Homo sapiens: one gene and its partners. The protein of the gene in region 1 purifies or fractionates together with the protein of each later gene. This does not show direct contact. Each region holds a gene or a part of one and is shown in the gene's direction. Other genes may lie near its edges.

The links.
Region 2: the proteins of SLC17A5 (region 1) and ATP8A1 purify together in Homo sapiens (affinity purification with mass spectrometry; one large-scale study listed by BioGRID and IntAct). This does not show direct contact.
Region 3: the proteins of SLC17A5 (region 1) and ACADSB purify together in Homo sapiens (affinity purification with mass spectrometry; one large-scale study listed by BioGRID and IntAct). This does not show direct contact.
Region 4: the proteins of SLC17A5 (region 1) and GFPT1 purify together in Homo sapiens (affinity purification with mass spectrometry; one large-scale study listed by BioGRID and IntAct). This does not show direct contact.

Annotation. Positions count from the first base shown.
Region 1 is NC_000006.12:73,651,193-73,655,437, reverse strand, and holds the start of SLC17A5 (sialin), read left to right. Parts: upstream 1-1,445; 5' UTR 1,446-1,551; coding exon 1,552-1,645; intron 1,646-4,245. UniProt on the Homo sapiens protein: Multifunctional anion transporter that operates via two distinct transport mechanisms, namely proton-coupled anion cotransport and membrane potential-dependent anion transport.
Region 2 is NC_000004.12:42,577,106-42,580,794, reverse strand, and holds part of ATP8A1 (phospholipid-transporting ATPase IA), read left to right. Parts: intron 1-816; coding exon 817-982; intron 983-2,407; coding exon 2,408-2,535; intron 2,536-3,689. UniProt on the Homo sapiens protein: Catalytic component of a P4-ATPase flippase complex which catalyzes the hydrolysis of ATP coupled to the transport of aminophospholipids from the outer to the inner leaflet of various membranes and ensures the maintenance of asymmetric distribution of phospholipids.
Region 3 is NC_000010.11:123,053,817-123,056,397, forward strand, and holds part of ACADSB (short/branched chain specific acyl-CoA dehydrogenase, mitochondrial isoform 1 precursor), read left to right. Parts: 3' UTR 1-2,581. UniProt on the Homo sapiens protein: Short and branched chain specific acyl-CoA dehydrogenase that catalyzes the removal of one hydrogen from C-2 and C-3 of the fatty acyl-CoA thioester, resulting in the formation of trans-2-enoyl-CoA.
Region 4 is NC_000002.12:69,338,728-69,342,416, reverse strand, and holds part of GFPT1 (glutamine--fructose-6-phosphate aminotransferase [isomerizing] 1), read left to right. Parts: intron 1-167; coding exon 168-265; intron 266-3,689.

The DNA of each region.
Region 1 (4,245 bases):
AAAATTAACCATCACACCAGATCTGCTGAATCTGAATCTACATTTTAAAAGGATTTGCCAGGTGACTCTGCATAATCCAGTTTGAAAATTGCATTTTTCTACAACCCTTAGAGAGTGTAAAAATCTACATGGTAATTCAGTAACTCAGAAACAAGGCTTGATTTGCTGCTTTAACTTGAGAACTTTTCTAGCATTTACTGATCTGGAGGTAGGGATGCCTACAGAAATCCTCGCCCTCCCTTCTAGGTAAAGGACCCTCCCCTTTGTTCTCACGTGAACCTCACTAAGCTTCTAACCTGGTTTACTGAATTAGTGGCTTGTGGGTCTTCCCTGTCTACACCAAACTCTCCGAGAGCATCTACATCTTATTTTCTACCTCCACAGAGACAGCCTTTATTGGCGGATCCAGATCTGCCCTGCCAAGGCAAGCTGGGTTTTCCTAGTTTCACTTTCAGAGTCCGCAAATGCTAGCACAATCTATCCAAATTCTATCGTGGAGATAAAGCATGCACACATACATCAGAGGATTCCATAGGTCGAACCATATGAAACTACCTATGTTGATTACTTTTACCTATAAAACCAGCAACATCATAGGACTCAACAAATTTCCATTGCTGTTTTTCCGCCTAAAAGCTATTTTAGGACCAGGAGCAGTGGCTCACGCCTGTAATCCCAGCACTTTGGGAGGCCGAGGAGGATTGCTTGAGCCCAGGAGTTCGAAACCAGCTTGGGCAATATAATAAGACCAAGCCTCTACAAAAATAAAAAGTAGAAACAAAATTAGCCAGATGTGGTGGCATGCTCCTGTAGTCCCAGCTACTTGGGGGAGCTGAAGAGAATCGCTTGAGTCCAGGAGTTGGAGGTTGCAGTGAGCTGCGATTGCGCCACTGCATTCCAGCTTGGGCAACAGAGCAAGACCCTGCCTGGGAGAAAAAAAAAAAAAAAAAAAAGCTATTTTAGGGACAATATGCCGCCACAGTCACGAGGTAAATATGCCGCCACAGTCACGAGGTAGATCGTACAAAGGTTGCTAACAGTATGGCAACTGACCGCTAACAAGCGAATGTCAAGTTGTGAAATGCACACCACCCACTTCCCTAGTTCGGTCGAAGCCCTCCCCTTAATTATGTGCAATTCAAGTCCCCACTGCCCGCCCGCAAGCCCCCACTCATCCTCGCTGCGGGCAGGGTGGCCCCTGCACTTTACAAGGGGGTGCAGGAGCGGGAGACGGTCGTCCGAACACCGGCTCCCCGGCATGCGTAGACCGGCGGGCGGAGCGGGCTCACTTTGCGCCAATCCTACGAGAACTCCCAGAACTCCGCTTCCCTAGTCCAACCCAAGCCAGAGTTGCCCACACCTAAGATGGCGGCGGGGGCGGAGTCGGCGCGGCCGCCTCTGGGCGGGACCGCGGGGACTAGACGTGGCCGCGGGGCGGTGTCATCGCCCCCGCCCCGCCCGGTCCAGCCAGCTCGGCCCGGGGGCTTCGGGCTGTCGGGCCGGCGCTCCCTTCTCTGCCAGGTGGCGAGTACACCTGCTCACGTAGGCGTCATGAGGTCTCCGGTTCGAGACCTGGCCCGGAACGATGGCGAGGAGAGCACGGACCGCACGCCTCTTCTACCGGGCGCCCCACGGGCCGAAGCCGGTAAGCGGCGGGGTCGTCCAGGGGCTTCGAGTGGGCAGCGGTACCGGGGGCGGCGGTCTCTGGGCCGGCATGGCCCGGGTACCCGCACCCTGCGCCGGCGGGACCGGAGCTGCTCAGGCGCGAGGGGACATTAAGAGGGGAGCCCGTTCAGAGTGCCGCTCAGTCCCGCCTGCCTCGGTGCGCAGAAGCCCCTCGGGAACCCCGGGGGCCGCGACCGTGATCGCGGAGCCGAGCCGGGGCCTCGGCAGGTGCAGCCCCACCGGGCGGGGGCGGGGGCGGGGGCGGGGGCGGGGGAGCGGCGGTGCAGCCGGCGCTGAGCTGGTGGTTATTTTGGGTAGTGCTGAGCAAGGGACCCAGTGGAAGAACGAACTGGGAGAGAATCATCAAATGAATGGGCTAAGGTCCGAGCGGAGGACCCCGGTGTAAGAGCAAACTGGAGGAGAAACCTGCAGATCAGTAGGCAGAGGGCTGTCCTTCCCTGTCACCGCTAGGTTTCCGCCACTGCGTATCCGCCAGCATGTGACCTGGTAGCTTCTTAGGCGGGGAGGGAAGACAAAAAAGGACTGGAGTTAACATTTGTGAGTATGCAGAGGGCAACTATTGTATAACCCAGCTGATATCTTGACATTGTGCAGTAAGAGACTAAAAACATCGAGGACATTTTTTTTCCGTCTGGCAGTCTATGATTTAAGTTAGGAAAAGGTTCAGTTATCCTCAAGATACCTATGGAGTTCTAAAGTAATTTGCCAAAGGTCTTGGAACAAATCGAAAAGCAGGTACGTCATAAAGCATCTTCCCTGAATTTGAGAAAATTAAAATATTTTGCTATTTGACACTTTTGTAATATAGTTTATTTAAAAGTAACGAAAACTAAAGAACAAATCAGTTTGAATGCATTCTATAGTTTCAAAGATCTGTGCGTGAGAAAGAGTTGTGTTGGAAATTTGACTTTGGCTAACCCAGAATTGTATAGTTTCTATATTTTTATTTGTTTTTAATGTTACCAGATGGTGGCAGTAGAGGTGGCAACCTTATAGCTCCATCTGGCAGCCGGGAGCTTATTTTAGTCAACACAAACTGTAAATACCATACCATAGTTACGTTTTACCTGGAAGTCGGACTTAGTTCCATAAACTGATCATTTTCTGTGGCTTGTAGTGTTCAAATTGTATAATATTCCTCATAAAATAATATAGAAATACAGAAATAAAAGTTATAATAAAGATATTTGCCAGAGATTATTACATTGTTACAATTGAAAAATATGTATATGTATAATCAAAATTTAGCACAAATGTTAAACATTATTCTCAGGAAAATGCAGATTAAAATTACAACGAGGCACTATACACCCACTAGAATAGCTAAAATCCAAAAGGCTGATAATACCAAATGTTAGCAGAGATGTGGATAGAAAAGTTATACATCTCAATAAAGATTGAGATGGACAAATGTATACATTTATCACGTAAATTATACTTCAATAAAGTTGATTTTTAAAAAAGTAGCTTATAGCATCCCTTTTAAAAACAATCCCTACTTGATTCATGTGTTGAGTGTATGGATCTTATGGTACTGGCCCTGTCCTTCCTGGCTTTAGGTGGCTACGTTTGTTACAACCATTTCCTTTTTTATTTTCCCTCTTTACATACCCACTGGAGAGCAAGTGAAGTGGAAATAATAGTAACATACTGTTTTTGCTATTTAGAATATGATAAGTTTTATAGAGAAGGAGCATATATGGCAATTAAGAGAAGTATATAATGAGCCCCCATGTAACCAGCACCCAGATTAAAGTTATCAATTCATGGCCAGTCTTGCCTTATGCTCATACATACTGTGTATTTTGAAGCAAATCCCAGATACCATGTCATTTCATATGTAAATATTTCAATTATTTACCTCTAAAAGATAAGGACTCTTTTTAACATAACTACAGTACTATTATCACAGCAAATAAAAATAATGCTTACTCACTTTGGGAGGCCGAGGCGGGCGGATCACCTGAGGTCAGCAGACCGAGACCATCCCGGCTAACAAGGTGAAACGCCTGAAACGCCGTCCCTACTAAAAATACAAAAAATTAGCCGGGTGTGGTGGCGGGTGCCTGTAGTCCCAGCTATTCGGGAGGCTGAGGCAGGAGAATGGCGTGAACCTGGGAGGCGGAGCTTGCAGTGAGCCGAGATCACGCCCCTGCACTCCAGCCTGGGTGACAAGAGCAAGACTTCGTCTCAAAAAATAATAATAATAAAATAATAATAATACTTACAAAATACTCAGTGTTCATATTTCCTCAATTATGTCCTGATTTTTTTTTTTTTTTTTTTTTTTTGAGACGGAGTTTTGCTCTGTCGCCCAGGCTGGAGTGCAGTGGTGCGATCTCGGCTCACTGCAGCCTCAGCCTCCCCGGTTCAAGTGATTCTCCTGCCTCAGCCTCCCGAGTAGCTGGGATTACAGGCCTACGCCACCACACCCAGCTAATTTTTGTATTTTTAGTAGAGACGGAGTTTCACCATGTTGGCAAGGCTGGTCTCTAACTTCTGACCTCAGGTGATCCACCCGCCTTGGCCTCCCAAAGTGCTGGGATTACAGGCCTGAGC
Region 2 (3,689 bases), on another chromosome or scaffold:
TACCATCAATATTCAATAGTCAGATGGGTGTGGAAAACAGTTTTAAGAAACTAAATGAAAATCTGCTCTCAGAGCTAATACCTTTGTACCTTGTACAGGCATGAAGGTATTATCAATAGGCAAGCGAGATTGCTGTTAGTGATTCCACCACTAGCCATTTTATAAATTCTATAAATCTTCATTTCATATTCATTCTGACATTTAATTTTCTGTTCTATGGATTTTTTGGTTAGCACAGGTCTACATAACCATTTGAATCATCAAATACAACTGAGGCAACTTGCCTCTGTTATTCTTTATAGCCAGGACTACTTAAATTGTTGCTGCGTTCAGTAAAACAATTGCTAAATGCCACCAGAAATTTGAAAGCCGGAGATCCTTTAAATGTTGCCTTCCTATGTTCAAATTTCCAGGTGCCTGTTTGCGGGAGCATGGGCTGCCTTGTCTGCCTGTCTTCCTGAACGGAAACACTAAATGTTTCTAGACTACCCTGTTTGCTTACATAGCCAAGTAATGCATTATTCATCTTACCTGCCACAATGCAAAAGCTATTTTTGCAAAGGGAATGTAATTTCGTTCTCTTCTTTCTTATAGTTTACTTCCTAGAAAAAGGCCTGGGTGGTGTAGTGGCCTTGAAAAAAAGGTGGTTAACCATTGGCACCTTATTACATTTGTCATGGGTTTCACATAATTTTCACGTATCCACCCACATCTAGATACTGAGTTGTGACTTTGTCATCCTCAACAGAATACTAAGTATAGATTGCTAAATCATTGGTGTACATTTTTTATTACTCATCTTGTTTCTTTTTACAGAATTCAACAAGTCCACCACTTAAGCTCTCAAATGTGGAACGGATTACAAATGTACAAATTTTGATTTTATTTTGTATCTTAATTGCCATGTCTCTTGTCTGTTCTGTGGGCTCAGCCATTTGGAATCGAAGGCATTCTGGAAAAGACTGGTATCTCAATCTAAACTGTAAGCAATAAAGTGCTTACTGCACTTTTTTAGATTAAGACATGTATTTGTTTCACAATTGATCTTGATTTACTTTATTTCGTATTGTTTCTAAAAAGACCTTGTTGCCAAGATAGCTGGACATTTGATCTTTATTTTTCAGTGAGATTTCTAGCAAGTGTAAGTAAAATTTGGGAATCCTAAAATTTCAGAATCCTTAAAAACATAATGAGCACTCTATAGTGGTATAAAATGTTCACTAAGTATAGTCATTTATTATATATATCAACGAAAACTATTCCTTAAAAATATTTTTAACATAGGTGGTTAACTATATGGTAAAGAAAGTAGATTGACCATGTGTGGATATAACAAAACATATATATTTAAATATATATTGTATGTATTTATAAATATATAAAATATTTTAAATATATTTAAATAATATAAATATTTAAATATATTTTATCTTAAATAAAATATACTTTGTTTATATTTTATTTAAATAAAAGTACCAAAAAGTGGTTTATATGGTTTAAAAATGTTTAAACCCAATGTATTTTCATTTGAACTCAGTAATGTGGTAAGTCCTATATTAAATGTTATCTTAGAGAAGGTGCTAGTAAATAGTTTTCCTTTAGAGCATTTATCCTTTTATTATTGTGATATTAATGTACCACCCCTGGATATTTCTGTCAAATGAGTTTACATTTTCATTTCATGAGTACTTAGCCAATAAAGACTTAACTTCCAAAAGTGTGAAAGCAAATTCTAGTACAATCACATAGCAAAAACTGGTATTTTTAAATTTTTTTTATTATATTGATTTATCTTTGCAGCAATTCCAAGTTGTTTTTATAGTTACTGATTTATTATTTCAGTATCAGAACTGTTACTACCATCAGTCTGTTTCTTTGTATACTTTATAATTGTATCTGGTATAGCAGTTTTATTTTCATTTTGAGGAAGAAGAGTATAATGTACCTAGGAGAATAATTTACCTAGGACTGAATATTACTCATATAGTTTGGATTGTTTTTGCTGCTGCTGTCTTGTTTGCTTTTAAAGTATGCTTTAAATTGGAAATACTCTTAAGAATTTATATAAAAGTGATTCTACCCAATTGAGATTTTATATTTATAAACCCTCAGTGCTATCCCTGATGTCTCTAAACTTTGTGTTTGGAAGAGGGTTTGCAATATTTGACAGTCCTTTCACTGTCTTAGTACTTTTATACAGCTCTTACCTGGATTAACAACATATTGAACACAATGCAATTCTATCTTGAAGGATGTACTTGAGAATTAGGATAGATTATCAGCAAAGTGTTCCTCCCAAATTATCAAATAAGCTGCGTAGTATGGAAAACTTGTATTATGCTAATTTGGGGTCAATGCAAATAAAATATAAAACTGTAAATGACGTTCTTCCTGCCTCTCCCAACAGATGGTGGCGCTAGTAATTTTGGACTGAATTTCTTGACCTTCATCATCCTTTTCAACAATCTCATTCCTATCAGCTTATTGGTTACATTAGAAGTTGTGAAATTTACCCAGGCATACTTCATAAATTGGGTAAATATGAATTATGATTGTTATCACCCTACAAAATAATTTTGTCCTTAGGATATTTTGATATCTCAGGAGAAAAAAGGTTTTAATTATATCTACCGTTTCTTGACCACAGTATCAGATTTTTGAACCTAATTTGTTGCAAAGTTCCTCATCTCAGAATCACACAAGTTTACAGGCCAGACATTGTAGGGAAAATGGGTCTCTAGTTCAGGAAACCTATGGTGGTCGTGGGAGATGGAGAACCATGAGTTTGGAGTTAAGTGTCTGAATTATGGTTCTAGTATTATAATTTACTAGGTGTATCAACTTTCTCAAGTCACTTATTTTGAAACTTATTTTCTTGAACACAATCATAGGGATAATATGCCTTACCTACATCTTACAGTGGTTTTATGGACTAAGGAATCTCTTGACATAGCAAAGAGCTTTGAAAATAATCAATCACTATACAAATAATACTGTAATTCTTACTGATATCAACCAGATTATCATGTTATATCATGTTATTTTCTACACTGTAAACAATTTTAGCTTCACTTGAATTTTTCTTCATAATTTTTCTCTTGAATATTGTTAAATATTAGAAAAATGTTGGACATCTACTTTCTAAATGTTTTTAAATGTCTTAGTTTTATTTTTATTAAAGTTAAAATTAATGAATTTATCTAAATTAAATCTGTGGGCCTAATCTGCCAGAAAATTTAATTTTTCTTTTATTTTGAGAAACTTTGTGTTATTTTTGATGTTTCTTTCTTTTTCAATCATTGTAAAGTCTTTCAATATGAACAATATTAGGGTTTCGAAAAATATGACATACTTTTGTAACTGCTCATTATCTTCTTGTAGCGAATTATCTACCTAAACTGTCAATCTCTTAATTCATTGGTAAGAAATCAGTGTGATTTAGAAATCTAAAATGAGCTGCAGGTGTAGCTCACTTCATGCAGGAGATATATGGCTGAAAAATTACGTAATAGGATATGTACAAATATAAGTAAGACTTATTGAAGTTTCTTATAGCAATAATAGGGTAACTCATTGTGAGAATCACATAAGTAAGCTAGATAATCACTTTGTTGTTTTGATTTTCAAAAATAATATCTTTCAAAGAATTATATAATTTTAGTATTGGATGAACCCAGCAGGCTTATGCT
Region 3 (2,581 bases), on another chromosome or scaffold:
CGGTTGTGTCTTGTTGGGAGTAAGTGCCTTGCGTGGGAATAAACTTCCACAGCATTCGAATATTTTAATGAAGCCCTTAGTCAGGGTCCTGGTGTTGGCCTTTTTGGTTTTCTCTTTTCAGGCTGTTTAACTTAGGCACAGGAGATCCACTTTTAAACTTGGGAAATAAGCACCTGTATTTTTTTCCAAAACTGTTTTTAAAGCTGTATACGCATACATATATATATTTTTACTCTGTCTTACTCTGTCACCCAGGCTAGAGTGCAGTGGCGCGATCTCAGCTCACTGCAGCCTTGACCTCCTGGGTTCCAGTGATTCTCATGCCTCATCCTCCCAAGTAGCTGGAACTACAGGTGTGCACCACCATGCCTGGTTCATTTTTGTGTTTTTAGTAGAGATGGGGTTTTACCATATTGCCCAGGCTGGTCTTCTGGCTTCTGGATATCGCCCACCTTGGCCTCCCAAAGTGCTGGGATTACAGGGATGAGCCACCGTGCCTGGCTGGGTATTTATATTATCATTCTAGTTTCAGAGTATACAGAAGTTTCATCCCATCATTTGGAAAAATAAAGGCATCTGAAGTACAATATTACTTATAGAAATAGTTTATATTCCTATTAAATCTTAATCTTGTGGCATCAGGGAAATATTTGTTACATAGTAGGCAATTTTTATCCAGTACTTTATAGATTCAACTCTAAGTTGCAAGCGAAGTCAAAACTGATGAAAATTTATTTAGAAAAATCTAAAAATTCTGGTTTTAAATATGAGAATCAGTGGAAAATAAGGGTATAATTTTGTAGGTCATATGATTGAAGAAAATATTATTTTAACAATGTAAAGCAATATGATTTGTTACTATAATTAACCTGTATAAAAGATACATTTTATGGTGGTTTCAGTAGGTCATTTTAAAAACCAATGTGCATTAGTTTTCAAGTATAAGGTTTAAGTAATTTGGTTTAATAATCAGAAAATATTCAATACAGTGTTGGATATTCTGTCATGCACTATTTTTCAGTTGACAATTTCTGTATTTTAATTGAATACTGTTTCTTCAGTCATGGTTATTGCACTTTATCCTGAATAATAATTCAGAAATTGGGTTTTGGTTCAGTGATTCTCAAGAAAAAGATCTCTTGCCCATTAAGAAGTGTATCAAAATCTCATAAGGAATGAGGGAGAGAAGGGGGCTGTAGAGTTTGAAAAAGCATATTCAATATTAAAATAGTTTTATATTTGGGAAGGCAAAAATGAATCTATTGTTTTGCAATATAGGTTATAAACAGGCAAAATGCAATAAAATATATATCTGGTTGTATTAGTCTGTTTTCACGCTGCTGATAAAGACATACCTGAGACCAGGAAGAAAAAGAGGTTTAATTGGACTTACAGTTCCACATGACTGGGGAGGCCTCAGAATCATGGTGGGAGGCAAAAAGCACTTCTTACATGGCGGCAGCAAGAGAAAATGAGAAAGAAGCAAAAGTGGAAACCCCTAATAAACCTATCAGATCTTGTGAGACTTACTATCACGAGAATAGCACAGGAAAGACTGGCCCCCATGATTCAATTACCTCCCCCGGGTCCCTCCCACAACACATGGGAATTCTGAGAGATACCATTTAAGTTGAGATTTCAGTGGGGACACAGCCAAACCATATCATTCTACCCCTGGCACCTCCAAATCTCATGTCCTCACATTTCAAAACCAATCATGCCTTCCCAACAGTCCCCCAAAGTCTTAACTCATTTCAGCATTAACCCAAAAGTCCGCAGTCCAAAGTTTCATCTGAGACAAGGCAAGTCCCTTCCACTTATGAACCTGTAAAATCAAAAGTAAACTAGTTACTTCCTAGATACAATGGGGGTACAGGTATTGGGTAAATACAGCCATTCCAAATGGGAGAAATTGGCCAACACAAAAGGGTAACAGGGCCCATGCAAGTCCAAAATTCAGCAGGGCAGTCAAATTTTAAACCTCCAAAATGATCACCTTTGACTCCACGTCTCACAATCATCTCTCTCAAGTTCGAAGTTCCACAAATCTCTAAGGCAAGGGAAAGATGCTGCCAGTCTCTTTGCTAAAACACAGCAAGAGTCACCTTTACTCCAGTTCCCAAAAAGTTTTTCATCTCCATCTGAGACCACCTCAGCCTGAATTTTATTGTCAATATTGCTATCAGCATTTTGGGCAAAGCCATTCAGCAAGTATCTAGGAAGTTCCAAACTTTCCCACATTTTCCTGTCTTCTTCTGAGCCCTTCAAACTGTTCCAACCTCTGCCTGTTACCCAGTTCCAAACTTGCTTTCATATTTTTGGCTATCTTTTCAGCAATGCCCCACTCTACTGTTAGCAGTTTACTGTATTAGTCTGTTTTCACACTGCTGATAAAGACATTCCTCAAGATTGTGAAGAAAAAGAGGTTTAATTGGACTTACAGTTCCACATGGCCGGGGAGGCCTCAGAATCATGGCGGGAGGTGAAAAGCACTTCGTACATGGTGGTGGCAAGAGAAAATGAAGAAGAAGCAAAAGTGGAAACCCCTGATAAACCCATCAGATCTCATGAGACTTACTAT
Region 4 (3,689 bases), on another chromosome or scaffold:
TTAATTTACTTTTCAAAATTACAGAGAACTGTGCTTTCCAAGAGGAATATTAATTCTTTAAAACAGCAGTATTCTTCCTCATATTGGCAGTGGATACTCACAAAATGCGATTGCCTAGTTCACATGGTTCTTTGCTAAATAATTATGTACACAAACTTTTATTTCAGTGAATTTGGGTGGTTTGAAGGATCACATAAAGGAGATCCAGAGATGCCGGCGTTTGATTCTTATTGCTTGTGGAACAAGTTACCATGCTGGTGTAGCAGTAAGTGCTTTTTAAAATTTTAATTATGTTGAATATTAGAGAATATCTGTAGACCAAGTAGTAGTCTAATAACATACTGTGTAAAACTATGTTTTGTTAATGTGTTATCTTTTCCCTTTTGTGATAAAAAAAGAAGGTAAGGGGAGAAATTTACCAGCTGCTTGGAATTATTTATCCATGGAAGATCTGTAGAAAAGGTCCCTAGATATACAGATAGACCTCCTGCAACGGACTTCATGAAAGGCCAAGAGGGGGAGAGTTTGTGTACTGTCCTAGACTTGTAGCCTAGGGAGCTTGCCTACATGTGTAAGAGCCATCGTTGGGTTTTGCTTAGCATTGTTCACTTGCCCTAGACAGATGGCCTGCATCATGTGTGAACCTCAGTGCAATTTTACTTTGTGGGCACATTACTGCAAAGAAAGGTAGTCTGCTTTTTTTTTTAAATCAGATTTTATTCTTTAAATTGTTCTTTTAGAAGCTGAAATTCAGTATCAAAAATGTGTATTGTCAGTGCAGAAGCATAGGTGTATGAGGGTCTTTTATTCCAATAAAAGACCAATATTTGCCCACGTAGTTTCCTTAGAAAGAGACAGTTTATGTGTTGCTGATGTCAACTGTTATGAACAGAAGACCTTTACATTCAATTTCTGCTTTTAGGATTGACTTCCAAAGTTCCTGACATAACTTATTTATTTGCTGAGGCATAAATATTTATTAGGAGCCATTTATTTAAGCAGTGAGTGAAACTATCTGGTCACCTGCCCTTGCATCTCAACAAGCTTTGCTCTTTTCTAAGACTACACCAAATACCTCCTCCCCTCCTCCCCCAAAATTATATGGTCCTAAACAGAAAGTCTATGTAATGTTGAAGGGTAGAGGTCTAAAAAAGTGATTGTTTTGTCTGGGTGTTGTGGCTCACACCTGTAATCCCAGCACTTTGGGAGGGCAAAGTGGGAGGATCAGTTGACCCTAGGAGTTTGAGCCTGGGCAACATAGCGAGACCCCGTCTCTACCAAAAAAAAAAAATTATCGGGGTGTGGTGGCAACTCCCTGTAGTCCTAGCTACTTGGGAGGCTGAGGCAGGAGGATCGCTTGAGTCCAGAAGGTGAGGCTGCAGTGAGCCTAGATTGCACCGCTGAACTCCAACCTGGGCGACAAAACCAGGCCCTGTCTCAAAAAAAAAAAAAAATTTTGAACACGGGAAGAAGAAAGATGTAAACACGTTAGTGGTGGCTTAGATCTATTACTGAATGAGCCCTGTATTCAGAAATAGAAAATTTGATTAAACGCTTCATCTAACGCTAAGACAATTTGGGGGCAGAAATTATATACTCTGTTAGAATTCTCTAATGTAAGATTTTTTGTTGTTTTGTGGATGCCAAGACTACTGTAGTAAACAAACATTAGAAATCCCCCTGTGGTTTATCAGACAAAATAGTACCATTTATTTTATCCTGTTTTACATTTTTGTTGTTGTTTCATGACACATTTACATGTTTTTTTTTTAGTATCTATATCCTGAATAACTGACTACACTCTAATCATTCTTAACTCATTTATGCCAGAGGTTGCAAAATTTTTTTGTGAAAAATCATCAGACCTTGGTGCTGACCTTGAGCAGTAGGATATAAATAACTCCCACATGCTTAACGTTCCAGTGATGGAACACTAGGCATAAATGATTTAAGTATAGCCTACTTAATATGCTTTTCAAAATTTTAATTTTCTCTAGGTTTTGTAGTGGCATTCAGTGGAATTTATAGCATTAAGTTACTCTATTGTGATGGAAATATGTCATTTTGTGTATTTATAAAAAGTTGTTCGCAGCTGGGTGCAGTGGTGTGTGCCTATAGTTCCAGCTCCTCGGAAGCTGGGGCAGGAGGATCACTTGAGACCAGGAATTTGAGGCCACAGTGCCCTAGAATCATGCCTCTGAATAGCTGCTACACTCCAGCCTGGGCAACAAACCAAGACCCCATCTTTAACCAAAAAAAAAAAAAAAAAAAAAAAAGTTGCCCCAACTAAAATAATAAACTATTAATTAGCACAGATAAATCTTGAGATTACTTTTTTGGGGTTTATTACTTTTAAATATCTGGTAAGCCTCCAGATTTCTATCTTTCTCTCTTCTTTCCCCATCTTTTTATTTTGAAGAATATGATTCCAATGTAACATTTATATTATAAACTGGGTGAAAAGGTTTGGTTTACATTTATTTGTGGGAAAACATTTAGCATTTTAGTGTCGGTAACTTAATTATGTATAATAAAATATATTAATGGAAAAGAATAATAAAAAATAGGAGCATTTTATCTTCAATGATTTTCTTTACATGATGTTGTAATATTGTTAAAAAATGCCAAATCAAAGTTATTTAATATTTTTGGGGGAACCAAGTAAAACGATTCTGTTCAAATTTGTGGGCAAGCAAAAGTTAAGGGCTATGAAATAAGGGCACCTTTAAGTTCTTTATTGCTGAGAAGGAGGAAAGCTGAGATGGGTGAGAGATGGGGAGGGCCACTTGCCTGAAGAGGCTGGTGAAAGGCTGTCAGGTTAGGTGAGCTCCACAGTTAGAATTAAAGCAACACTAAATGTATACATTGGTTGAGCTTAAAGTTTTTGCTGCCTAAAAGATAATTTTTCTGTTTTTGATTTTCCGATGTTTAGTGTAAAAATAATTAGAATGGAAATTTACTGAAATGAAGGTTAAACTACGTTTTGCACAGAGGCATACTGCTCCCTACTTCATTCCCCCTGCCCCATGCCACAAAAGTTGAAAATAGTGAGCCCTGTTAAACAAGATTTCTAAAATATATTGACTTCTTTTGGGAAATGGTCATATTTATGAATACGTTGTACTTTTAAAGTGTTTAATTTTTCTCTATATATTTGTACATCTGTTACCTGATTTGAAACCCCTCCCTAACATGGGTATTACATGAATTTTCATTTTAAAGATTAGGAATTGGGAGGTTAGAGATAACACACAAGCTGACTCAGAACCATGCTCTTTCCACTTCTCAAAACGTTTTATATGTGTGGGTATGTTTCCTTATAAGAATGTATGTGTCCAGGCGCAGTGGCTCATGCCTGTAATCCCAGCACTTTGGGAGGCTGAGGCGAGCAGATCATGAGGTCAGGAGATTGAGACCATCCTGGCCAACATGGTGAAACCCCATCTCTACTAAGCTGGGCATGGTGGCGCACGCCTATAGTCCCAGCTACTCAGGAGGCTGAGGCAGGAGAATTGCTTGAACCCGGGAGGCGGAGGTTACGGTGAGCCGAGATGGCACCACTGCACTCCAGCCTGGCGACAGAGCGAGACTCCGTCTCAAAAAAAAAAAAAAAAGGAATGTATACATAGATAGTTGTCTAAAGAGACTGATAGTAAAATGTTAGCCATGCTTATCTCAAGTGGTAGGAT